Regions from separate parts of the Homo sapiens genome. Here region 2 is linked to region 1. Evidence: fine-mapped expression QTL. Tissue or cell type: monocytes after LPS. Region 1 holds a variant in brackets; the other region holds the start of a gene. All regions are shown on one strand. Distances are between the middles of the regions.

Evidence for each region. PIP is the estimated chance that this variant, and not a neighbour inherited with it, causes the effect.
Region 2: it holds the start of DIP2B, and the variant in region 1 is fine-mapped to the expression of DIP2B in monocytes after LPS (Fairfax 2014, PIP 0.91).

The regions. Positions count from the first base shown.
Region 1 is chr12:50,699,893-50,705,042 of GRCh38, reverse strand. DIP2B (disco interacting protein 2 homolog B) reads right to left here. Exons shown (of 38, transcript NM_173602.3): 20 at 823-903. Among named protein-coding and RNA genes, the nearest start is that of ATF1, 62 kb to the left of the region's middle. The variant A/TTTTA (reference allele first, on the strand shown) is at 2,309.
Region 2 is chr12:50,502,326-50,507,475 of GRCh38, reverse strand. It overlaps DIP2B (disco interacting protein 2 homolog B), which reads right to left and starts at 2,491. Exons shown (of 38, transcript NM_173602.3): 1 at 2,236-2,491. The coding sequence starts at 2,335. RefSeq lists a silencer at 2,079-2,188.

The sequences.
Region 1 (5,150 bases):
ACAGGCTTTTAATGTCCTGATTGTCTCTAATCTTGTACCTATAAATACTGTGTTCTGAATAACAAACTTTTTTGTTTTTTTTTTGTTTGTTTTTTGAAATGAAGTCTCGCTCTGTTGCCCAGGCTGGAGCATAGTGGCGTGATCTCCACCTCCTGGGTTTAAGCGATTCTCCTGCCTCAGCCTCCCAAGTAGCTGGAATTACAGGTACATGCTACCACACCCAGCTAATTTTTGTATTTTTAGTAGACACAGAATTTGCCATGTTGGCCAGGCTGGTCTCGAACTCCTGACCTCAGGTGATCCGCCCACCTCGGCCTCCCAAAGTGCTGGGATTACAGGCATGAGCCACCACACCCGGCCCAAACTGTTTTCACTCAAAGGATCACTATTACACATCACATAGTGCCAATCATTTACATGAAAATGCTCTGTATACTATGTATTATAGTTTGTCTTTGCTACTGAAGATAACTTTTTCCAGCACTCTTCTAACTTATTGCAACATGTTAATCAAATCAGAGCGAGATAGTGAGAATAAGTGAAAAGAGTTCTTAAAATAAAAAAAGTCTCATCATGTCTTCTGATCTCAGCGGGGAAAAAAAGAAAATAAAAAATGTCTTAGTTTGAAGGAGTCAAATGAACTTGGGTAGTGGAAATGATAAACACTAACTCATTTTATGACATCCTTACAAGAACTGCTTTAAATATAAGTGAAGTGGTTCTGTAACACTCTTGGACTAATCAGAATTTGTTCTGTTCTGTGAATTAAAGTCCAAATATTTGGATCAAATGTAACAAAATCAACATGAAAGCATCACTTACCGGCCCTACAAACCCCAGCAATCCTGATCGGATGAATGGCACATCCCCAACAGGAGAGCCTGCAGAATTCACTGGAATTACCTAAGAGACAAAATGAAGTAAGTGAAAAACTTTGCTTTTTCTTAGAAAGTATATGTGATTTTTAAAAAGTTTTATTAAAATACATGCTCAGTGAAAAAATAATGTAATAGTGAATCCAGTAATTCCATCCCTTTAGAGATAAGAAATAATTACAATTTATTGTTTACCTCTCTAGACTTTTAAGAAGATACATATATAAATATATATATAAAACATATAAAAAATATGTATATATAAATAAATGTGCTGAGTTTTTTTTTTTTTCAAACAGATATTATACTTTTTGCAACTTGCTTTTCCACGAAATATATCTCAGATACCCTTCCAAGTTAGTAAGAGTTGACTTAGCCCACTCAGCCACTCCATGGGGGACAGGACAGCATAGTCGTTGGTGTCAATTCAATTTCTGGCTCTGCCACTTACTAGTAACATAGACTTTAGGCAAGTGCCTGGATTTTTCTGAGCCCTGTTTTGCAGCCACTTAATGGAGTACTCTGTGCCTCTCACAGGCTTGGAGTAAAGATTAAGGAATGCAAAAAGATTTGCAGAAACAAGTACGGTATCTGACCCAGAATCAGTATTCAGGAAATTGTAGCTATTAGAATGTAACCAGTCTTTTATTACAGCTGGATAGGCCATTATAATTTTTCACTATTATAAAGGTGCTTTAATGAATATTGCTGTATTCATTTATGCATCTGTACAAAAGGCACGAGTCTTTTCAATTTTAATTGGCTGGCCTATAAAACTGTCGTATCCATTTACACTCATTAATATCATACTAGAATGTCTGGTTCTTCCCATGTCCTGGCTAGTACTATGTGCTATCCATTTTTCCAAACTTTGCCAATCTGGTACCGAAAAATATATCCTATTGTTAATTTATTAAAAAAAAAATCTTTTTTTTTTTTTAAAATGAGATATAGTCTCACTTTGTTGCCCAGGCTGGAGTGCAATGGTGCAATCATAATTCACTGCAGCCTCAAAATCCTAGGCTCAAACAATCCTCCCACCTCAGCCTCCCAAGGATCTGGGAGTACAGGTGCGGGTTACCACGCCTAGCTAATTTTTAATTCGTTTGTAGAGATGGGTCTCGCTACATTGTCCAGAGGTATTGAACTCCTAACCTCAAACAATTCTCCTGCCTTGGCTTCCCAAAGTGTTGGGATTACAGGAGTGAGCCACCATACTCAGACTTAAAAAAATTTTTTTAAATTCAAGACAGTAGACATTAATCCCATTATTGCTTTAATTGCATTTTATAAGTAATATGTCTGAATTTCTTTTCCTTCGTTTGCCGAGCATTTGTATTTCTTTTGTGAGTAGCCTATTCATGTCTCTTACCTATTTTTTCTACCTGATAGCTGCTCCCCACCCCTCCTTTTTTTTTTTTTTTTTTTTTTTT[A/TTTTA]AGAGATGAGGTCTCACTATGTTGCCCAGGCTGGAATGCAGTGGCTAGTCACAGGCGTAATAATGGTTCAGTACAGCCTTGAACTCCTCGGCCCATGTGATCCCCCGTGTCACACTCCAGAATAGCTGGGACTACAGGTGTGAACCACAGCACCCGGATAATTTTTTTTTTAAGACAGAGTTTTTTGCTCTGTTGCTCAGGCTGGAGTGCAATGGCACAATCTCGACTCACTGCAACCTCCGCCTCCCGGGTTCCAGAGATTCTCCTGCCTCAGCCTCCTGAGTAGCTGGGATTACAGGCACCTGCCACCACACCCGGCTAAGTTTTGTATTTTCAGTACACAAGGTTTCACCATGTTGGCCAGGCTGGTCTTGAACTCTTTTTTTTTTGAGACAGAGTCTCGCTCTGTCGCCCAGGCTGGAGTGCAGTGGCACAATCTTGGCTCACTGCAAGTTTCACCTCCCGGGTTCAAGCCGTTCTCCTGTGTCAGCCTCCCGAGTAGCTGGGACTACAGGCGCCCGCCACCATGCCTGGCTAATTTTTTGTATTTTTAGTAGAGACGGGGCTTCACCATTCACAGGATGGTCTCGATCTCCTGACCTCGTGATCCGCCCGCCTCGGCCTCCCAAAGTGCTGGGATTACAGGTGTGAGCCATCGTGCCCAGCTGGTCTTGAACTCTTGACCTCAGGTGATCCACCCACCTCAGCCTCTCAAAGTGCGAGGATCACAGGCATGAGCAACTGCTCCCAGCCTCATCTGTATAATTCTTAAAATTTATTTTTTATATAAAATAATAATTATAACAACACTAAATGCTTATCAGTACCAGGAACAGGTTTACTTGCTTTACAGTTAATCCTCAAATTAATCCTATAGAAACAGCATTAGTATTTCCATTTTACAGATGAAGTGAGTTTCACTTGCCTCAAATAGCTAGCACATGGGAGTGATGGAAAATCAACTGTTGTCATACATGTCACAAAAGTTTTTCTCCCTGGTAGCATTATCTATAAAATATTTTTATTTTCTGACTAGTCAATACTAGATCTTGGCCTGGTGTGGTGGCTCATGCCTGTAATCCCAGCACTTTGGGACGCCGAGGAGGGTGGATCACCTGAGGTCAGGAGTTCAAGACCAGCCTGGCCAACACGGTGAAACCCCATCTCTACTAAAAATACAAAAAAACTAGCCAGGCGTGGTGGCAGGCACCTGTAATCCCAGCTACTTGGGAGGCTAAGGCAGGAGAATTGTTTGAACCCGGGAGGCAGAGGTTGCAGTGAGCCGAGATTGCACCACTGCACTCCGCCTGGGCGACAGAGCAAGACCCCACCTAAAAAACAACAACAACAACAAAAAAACAAACCACAAAACAAATTTAAAACCTAGATCTTTTCTCCAGTGAAATGTTAACTACATTGGTAAACTCTCTCAGGATTTAAATTTAAGAAGCCAGTAAGAAAAATACTGGGAACTTTAATTTGGAAAACCCAGATACTAGCTTTGTCCTTTTCTGGTACAATTTTTATTCTACTTCACTATCACTAAATTTATAATGCAGATTTTAAATTTTCTTCAACACTATGGACCTAGCAGTTTGGTATTAAGTCTGAGAATTCTGGCTAGTGAACTGCCTCATTGGAAAGGTAATGAAATAAAATATCAGTATCTTCAAACACTGCTTGAGGCTCTTGTTTTTAGTAAGGAAAAGTCAATGAAGAAAAATTACAGGCGCAACGGCTCATGCCTGTAATCTTTGCACTTTGGGAGGCCAAGATGAGAGGATCACCTGAGGCCAGGAGTTGAAGGCTGCAGTGAGCTATGATTGAGCCACCGTATTCCAGCCTGGGTGACAGAAATAAATAGGGTGAGATTTAAATTAGTTAAATGTATATACACTCAAGGGAGGTAAATCAATCACCTAGGAAAGTAAACCAAGAGACTGGCAGTAAACACATGCTTGAAGAGCTTATGAATGCCCACTCCTGGCATGGTGAATTGCACACAGCTTTTGAAGGCTGGGCAAGAGCACAGTAGTAATAGTTATGAGAAAGACATTTAGTAAGTGATATAAGCCATTTTAGGTTGGGTAAACACAAAGATAAGGTTCAGCCCAGGAGCTCTTAGCCCTTTTCAGGTACCACATCATGGAGAGCATAGATATGGTATCACAGAGATGATACTTTCTCTGAAGTTACATCTGTTAGTATGTAATCACATGCACTGATTTCAAGTGGGACAGTAGATGCCTGTAACCTTCCATCCTGGGAATCACTAGTCTAGATTATAGAAAAAGAAGCTCAAAGAACTGAAAAATAGGAGTGCTTATATAAGCTCTGTCTTGTGTGAAGAGGGATGTGGCTGCCACCTGAATTTCTCTCGTCCCTAAAATGTATCCTGAGACAGGTTAATTCCAATTATTAAATGTAGACAATTAACCGCCCCTGTTCTGACTTCCAGGTTCACTAGGCAAAGTTTCCATTACAACCTGGCTTCGCATGCAGAAGTGCCTGCAGGAAAACCGTGTGCGAGTCTAGCTAGAATGTGCTGGCCCCACAAGAACGTGAGCTCCACAAGGAGTTTTGTTTTGTTTTCTGATGCACCCCAAGCATCTGGAACATTGCCAGACACATTAAAGGTGCTCAAAAAATATTTGTCTGACTGAAAGACTGAATAATATGAGCAACCTGACTCCTGTGAAAGGACAGTCTTCATTTTTAATTAGTAACTGAGCATAATTGGAGTTTACTCTCGAAATTAAATTTGAATTTACAAAGCTCAAACCATGGCAAATTCACCACAGTGAATTTTTGTGAGGCCTCTTACCCTTTTTTTTTTTGGTTT
Region 2 (5,150 bases), 200 kb after region 1:
AACCTTAGCTCCAAATATGCTACAGGCATCACAAATAACACCATACTACACAGATATGGGGACTTTTGGATTATTTTAACTTCACTTGAATTCCTAATGTCTATCCACTTCTCCAGCCAACCATCCCCTGTACTTTAAGCAAGAAAGATGACCAATATGCTGACACTGCAGGCCCAAGTTTTTCAATTGTATTTTTTCCAGTCATCCATTGCTAAAACAAATGAAATACAAGAAGTGTAGTATATCTATAAGAAACAAATTCAAACCAAGTCAGATGCCAACCAAAATAATCCTTCATTGGAAAGCAAACCATGCACTTGTCCTTAAAATGTTTAAGCCTTGGCATTCACAATTTGTAGAAGTTTCACACCTTTCTGAAGGAGAGAGAGGTGAGCTAATCAGTGTGGGTCCTAGAAATAGTTCCTCAGAATGTTTCTAGACATTCTAGAGATGTCTAGAAACACCCAGAGATGTAAACAACAATCAGCTGGAAGCAGATATACCCAGAATAAGGAGCTTCCAGGATTTCCCTCTCCGTGTGAAAGCAATCAACTCCTATTTTTAATCTCCCTCTGACGCAAGCATCCAGGCAAACCTCTCTCTAATCAAAGCTAGATGATTTGTTACTTTCAAATAGCAGTTTTAAAAGTCAGATTTTAATGCAAGTCAACACAGATTTAATGTCAATGCTTTAGTCTAGGAGAAGAATGAGTTATCTTGAGAGACAGAATTGATGGTAATGCAAAAAGCTCCTCGATTTTCGAAGCGGGGGGAACTTAAGGTATAACTGGGCAGACAAACCCAGAGGATTCCTATCTTCTTAAACACTTCACAGAAACAAACTAATCTAATACCAGTGATTCCCGGGACTGGCCGAAGAATAACTTGAAAATTGGATTAATTGAAAAATAACATGTTGATAGTTAAGTACAGGTAAAAACAGCACTTTCCTACACATTGGGTTATTAAAAGGGTTATTAAAAATAATTATTTCCTTCAGTGCCCAACAGGATTTATAACATTCAACTCTATTTTTGGTTTTTCATTGTAAAGGATTCTCAGAGGGGAGGGAACCATAATGCCTTAATAAGTAAACAATAAGTAATGTTTAATAAGCTCCTGGGAGTTGGTCACATTCTTCTTTTCCAATCAAGAGTTTTTGATCCACTTGAAAAATGCTAGTGAAGAGGGCCTTCCACAAGGAACTCAGTAAGAATATGCAACTCTGGAGACACAATCAAAGTACTGGTATCAAGCTTGGAGAAAATGCTGCTTTTGTCTCAGGGGCAGCCAGTGATAAAAACAGGAACTTTACACAGAACTGATCACAACTGCCCCAGAAGCCTGATCACATGCCCACAACGGAGCACTGTGTTTCTCTCATTGTTGTACAAGGAGTTCTCTAATAACAGTGGCTTGATTTATCCCATTTTTTTTTTTTAATTCTGAAAATAAATCGAACCCTCCCTGTCCCAATCCATTGTCAAAAGAAAGAATGCCAGCCAGGATTTGCAAGTAAACGGTAGCCTCCTCTCCTTCCTTCATCAAAGACTCCAAAAGGTGACCAGATGCGGAAAATTCGGCCCGAATAACAGGCACCAGGAAAAAAAAAAACTTCTTATGACAAAGGTGGTCTAAAAGCAGCACCGTGTGTCTCTCTGGGTTAATGCCATTGCTTCTTATCTTCCTAGGACCCTAAATGGCTCACCCGCTTGTGTCTCACTCCTGTCACTGGGGAGGCATCGCGCATTGTTAAAGGAAAGAGAAGAAATGATGCTGCGGATTTCCCATGTGTCTCTTTTTGAAAGGGGGAAGGGGGGGCTGGAACAAGGCGTGGAGCCCTCCACGAAAAGGGGAGAGGAAAGGAGAAAGCTGTCAGCCACCCTCCTCGCAGCCCTACCCCTCACCCCACCTGGGCCAGACGCCTGGGCAGAAGCGGGAGGGCGCAGCTTTGTCTCGGGTTTTGGGGGGCAGGAAGCGCAGAAGCAGTGTGGGCCCGGGAGGACCTTTCCACAAGCCCTTACTTAGTCCCCTCCATGGGAAAACAATGAAAGCCACAGGAAACCACTTAATGGGGTGGGAGAGGAGGGAAAACGGTCGTGGAGCGCCAGGCCAGGTTCTCTACACCCTCGTCCCCCTCGCCGCACGGCCGCCAGAGCGCGCGGCGGGGACCTGTCTCCCAAGTCGCCGCGATCCGCAGGGCCCCGGGCGCCCTCTCCCCGGCCCGGCTCCTACCCTCCGAGAGCTCCAGCTCCAGCTCCGCCAGCTGCGCCCGCACTTCAGGCGGCAGCGCCGCCACCGCGGCCGGCGACGGCTCCAGGCCTCGTTCCGCCATCCCAGCTCCGCCAGCCACACTCCGGAAGACAAGAGAGGGGGCCGAAGGAGGGACGGACAGACACGGGCCCACACCCGGCTACAGGATCCGGCTCCGGCCGCCGAGCACCACCAGCACCGCCGCCGCCGCCGCCGCCGCCATGAGCAAAGGTCACGTGAGCGCGACGGCCCCCGCCCCCCGGCCAGGAGGACGCACCGCCTCTCCAGCCCAGTCAGGCTGAAGACGCATATGCTTACGGCGCCCTCTACTGGGAAGCTACCAGAACGACGGGCCCAAGCCCACCACTCGAATTTCCCTGCGCGAAATGGGCTCATGGTATGGACTGTCGGCTTTACCACAGTAGTGTGGACACATAGCATTTACCTTTCACTCTCGAGCAAGTTTTTAGGGGTCCCAGGCCTTACTTTTTCCAATACTAGACTTAGCAATGTATGTCTATCGTGTCCTTTACTCCATTTTCCCTGATTAATACCTGCCCATTTATAAAAACCTAATCACAGGCCACCTCCTTCGCTGTGGCTCCTGGTCCTATCTGCCAGGAGCTCTGTTTCCGTTTCAGTTTTAGCTTTTAAAAAGACAGGCGCGGTGGCTCTCGCCTGTAATCCTAGCACTTTGGGAGGCTGAGGCTGGTGGATCACCTGAGGTTAAGAGTACCAGGCTAGCCGACCGGGCGCGGTGGCTCACGCCTGTAATCCCAGCACTTTGGGAGGCCGAGACGGGTGGATCACGAAGTCAGGAGATCGAGACCATCCTGGCTGACACGGTGAAACCCCGTCTCTACTAAAAGTACAAAAAATTAGCCGGGCGTGGTGGCGGGCGCCTGTAGTCCCAGCTACTCGGGAGGCTGAGGCAGGAGAATGGCGTGAACCCGGGAGGCGGAGCTTGCAGTGAGCCAAGATCACGCCACTGCACTCCAGCCTGAGCGTGAGCGCGAGACTCCGACTCAAAAAAAAAAAAAAAAGAGTACTAGGCCAGCCTGGCCAACATGGTGAAACCCCGTCTCCAATAAAAATACAAAAATTAGCCGGGCGTGGTGGCGGATGCCTGTACTCCTAGCTACTCAAGAGGCTGAGGCAGGAGAATCACTTGAACCCAGGAGGCAGAGGTTACAGTAAGCTGAGATCGCGTCATTGCACTCCAGCCCGGGCAAGAGAGCAAACACTCCGTCTAAAGAAAAGAAAAAGACAATAGAGAGCAGGTCCACTTCTTTCTTTCTATACTTCTAACTACTTACAAGGAGGGAACTTACTTTAACTCATCCTCCTCACTCTGTGGCCTAATAGGTGTTCCAAAAACATTAATTTTAATTTAATATGAAGAGGGTCCAAGGCTAGGTGCAGTGGCTCACACCTATGATCCCAGCACTTTGGGAGGCCAAGGTGGGCGGATCACCTGAGGTCAAGAGTTCGAGACCAGCCTGGCCAACATGGCGAAACCCCGTCTCTACTAAAAACACAAAAATTAGCCGGGAGTAGTGGCACATGCCTGTAATCCCAGCTACCTGGGGGAGCTGAGGTAGGAACGTCGCTTGAACCCGGGAGGCCAAGGTTACAGTGAGCTGAGAACATGGCGGCTGCGCTCCAGCCTGGGCAACGCAGTGAAACTGTTTCAAAAAAAAAAAAAAAAGTCAAGGCCGGGCGTGGTCGCTCACATCTGTAATCCCAGCACTTTGGGAGGCCGAGGCAGGCAGATCACCTGAGGTCAGGAGTTGGAGATCAGCCTGACCAGTATGGTGAAACCCCGCGTCTACTAAAAATACAAAAATTAGCTGGGCATGGTGGCATGTGCCTGTAATCCCAGCTACTCGGGAGGCTGAGACAGGAGAATCGCTTGAACCCGGGAAGTGGAGGTTGCGGTAAGCCCAGATTGCACCACTGCATTCCAGCCTGGGCAACAAGAGCGAAACTCCGTCTCAAAAAAAAAAAAAAAAAAAAAGGAAAAACTGGATGAAGCATACACAGGAATTATCTGTACTATCTTTGCAACTTTTCAGTAAATTTAAAACCATTCTAAAGTAAAACATTTATTTAAAATTATAGAAGCTTAGAACAAACTTGAGAGATCCTCCTACCTCAGCCTCTCAAAGTGCTGGGATTACAGGCATAAGCCACCTCATCCAGCCTTTACTGCATTCTTCCACCAAATTATTCTACCTTTTTGCTAGATTATTCCTTATATTCTCTTTATTTCTAATTGTTTATTCTTTACCTTAATCTTTTTGTCTAGATATTATTGTTGTACCAGCCTTTTTAATTACTACTTGCTGACTTTTTTTAGTCTTTTATTTTCAACTTTTGTCTGTGACTCTGGTTGTAACAAATTAATTAAATCCATTTAAGTTCATTTAATATAATTACTGATATATTAGGACTTATTTCTTCATTCTTGTTAAATGTTTTCTGTTTATCAATCTCTGTCTTTGCTTTCTTCCCCCCCTTTTTCTCCTATTGTTGAATTAGTAAAGTGTTAGATAGTACTTCTTTGTTCTTCTGGTTTGGAAGGTACAGATTATACTGCTATTCTTTCTGTGACTATTTTAAAAGTTTAACATTAAATTTTTCTCCGAGGCCAGGTGTGGTGGCTCATGCTTTTGGAGAAAAACTTTTAAAAATTAACAAACAAAAATATACTATGTTTATACTGTGTCACCGTTTTTTTTTTTTTTAGACAGAGTCTCGCTCTGTCACCCAGGCTAGAGTGCAGTGGCGCAATTTCAGCTTACTACAACCTCTGCCTCCCGGGTTCAAGCGGTTTTCCTGCCTCAGCCTCCCAAGTAGCTGTGATTACAGGCACCGGCCACCATGCCCGGCTAATT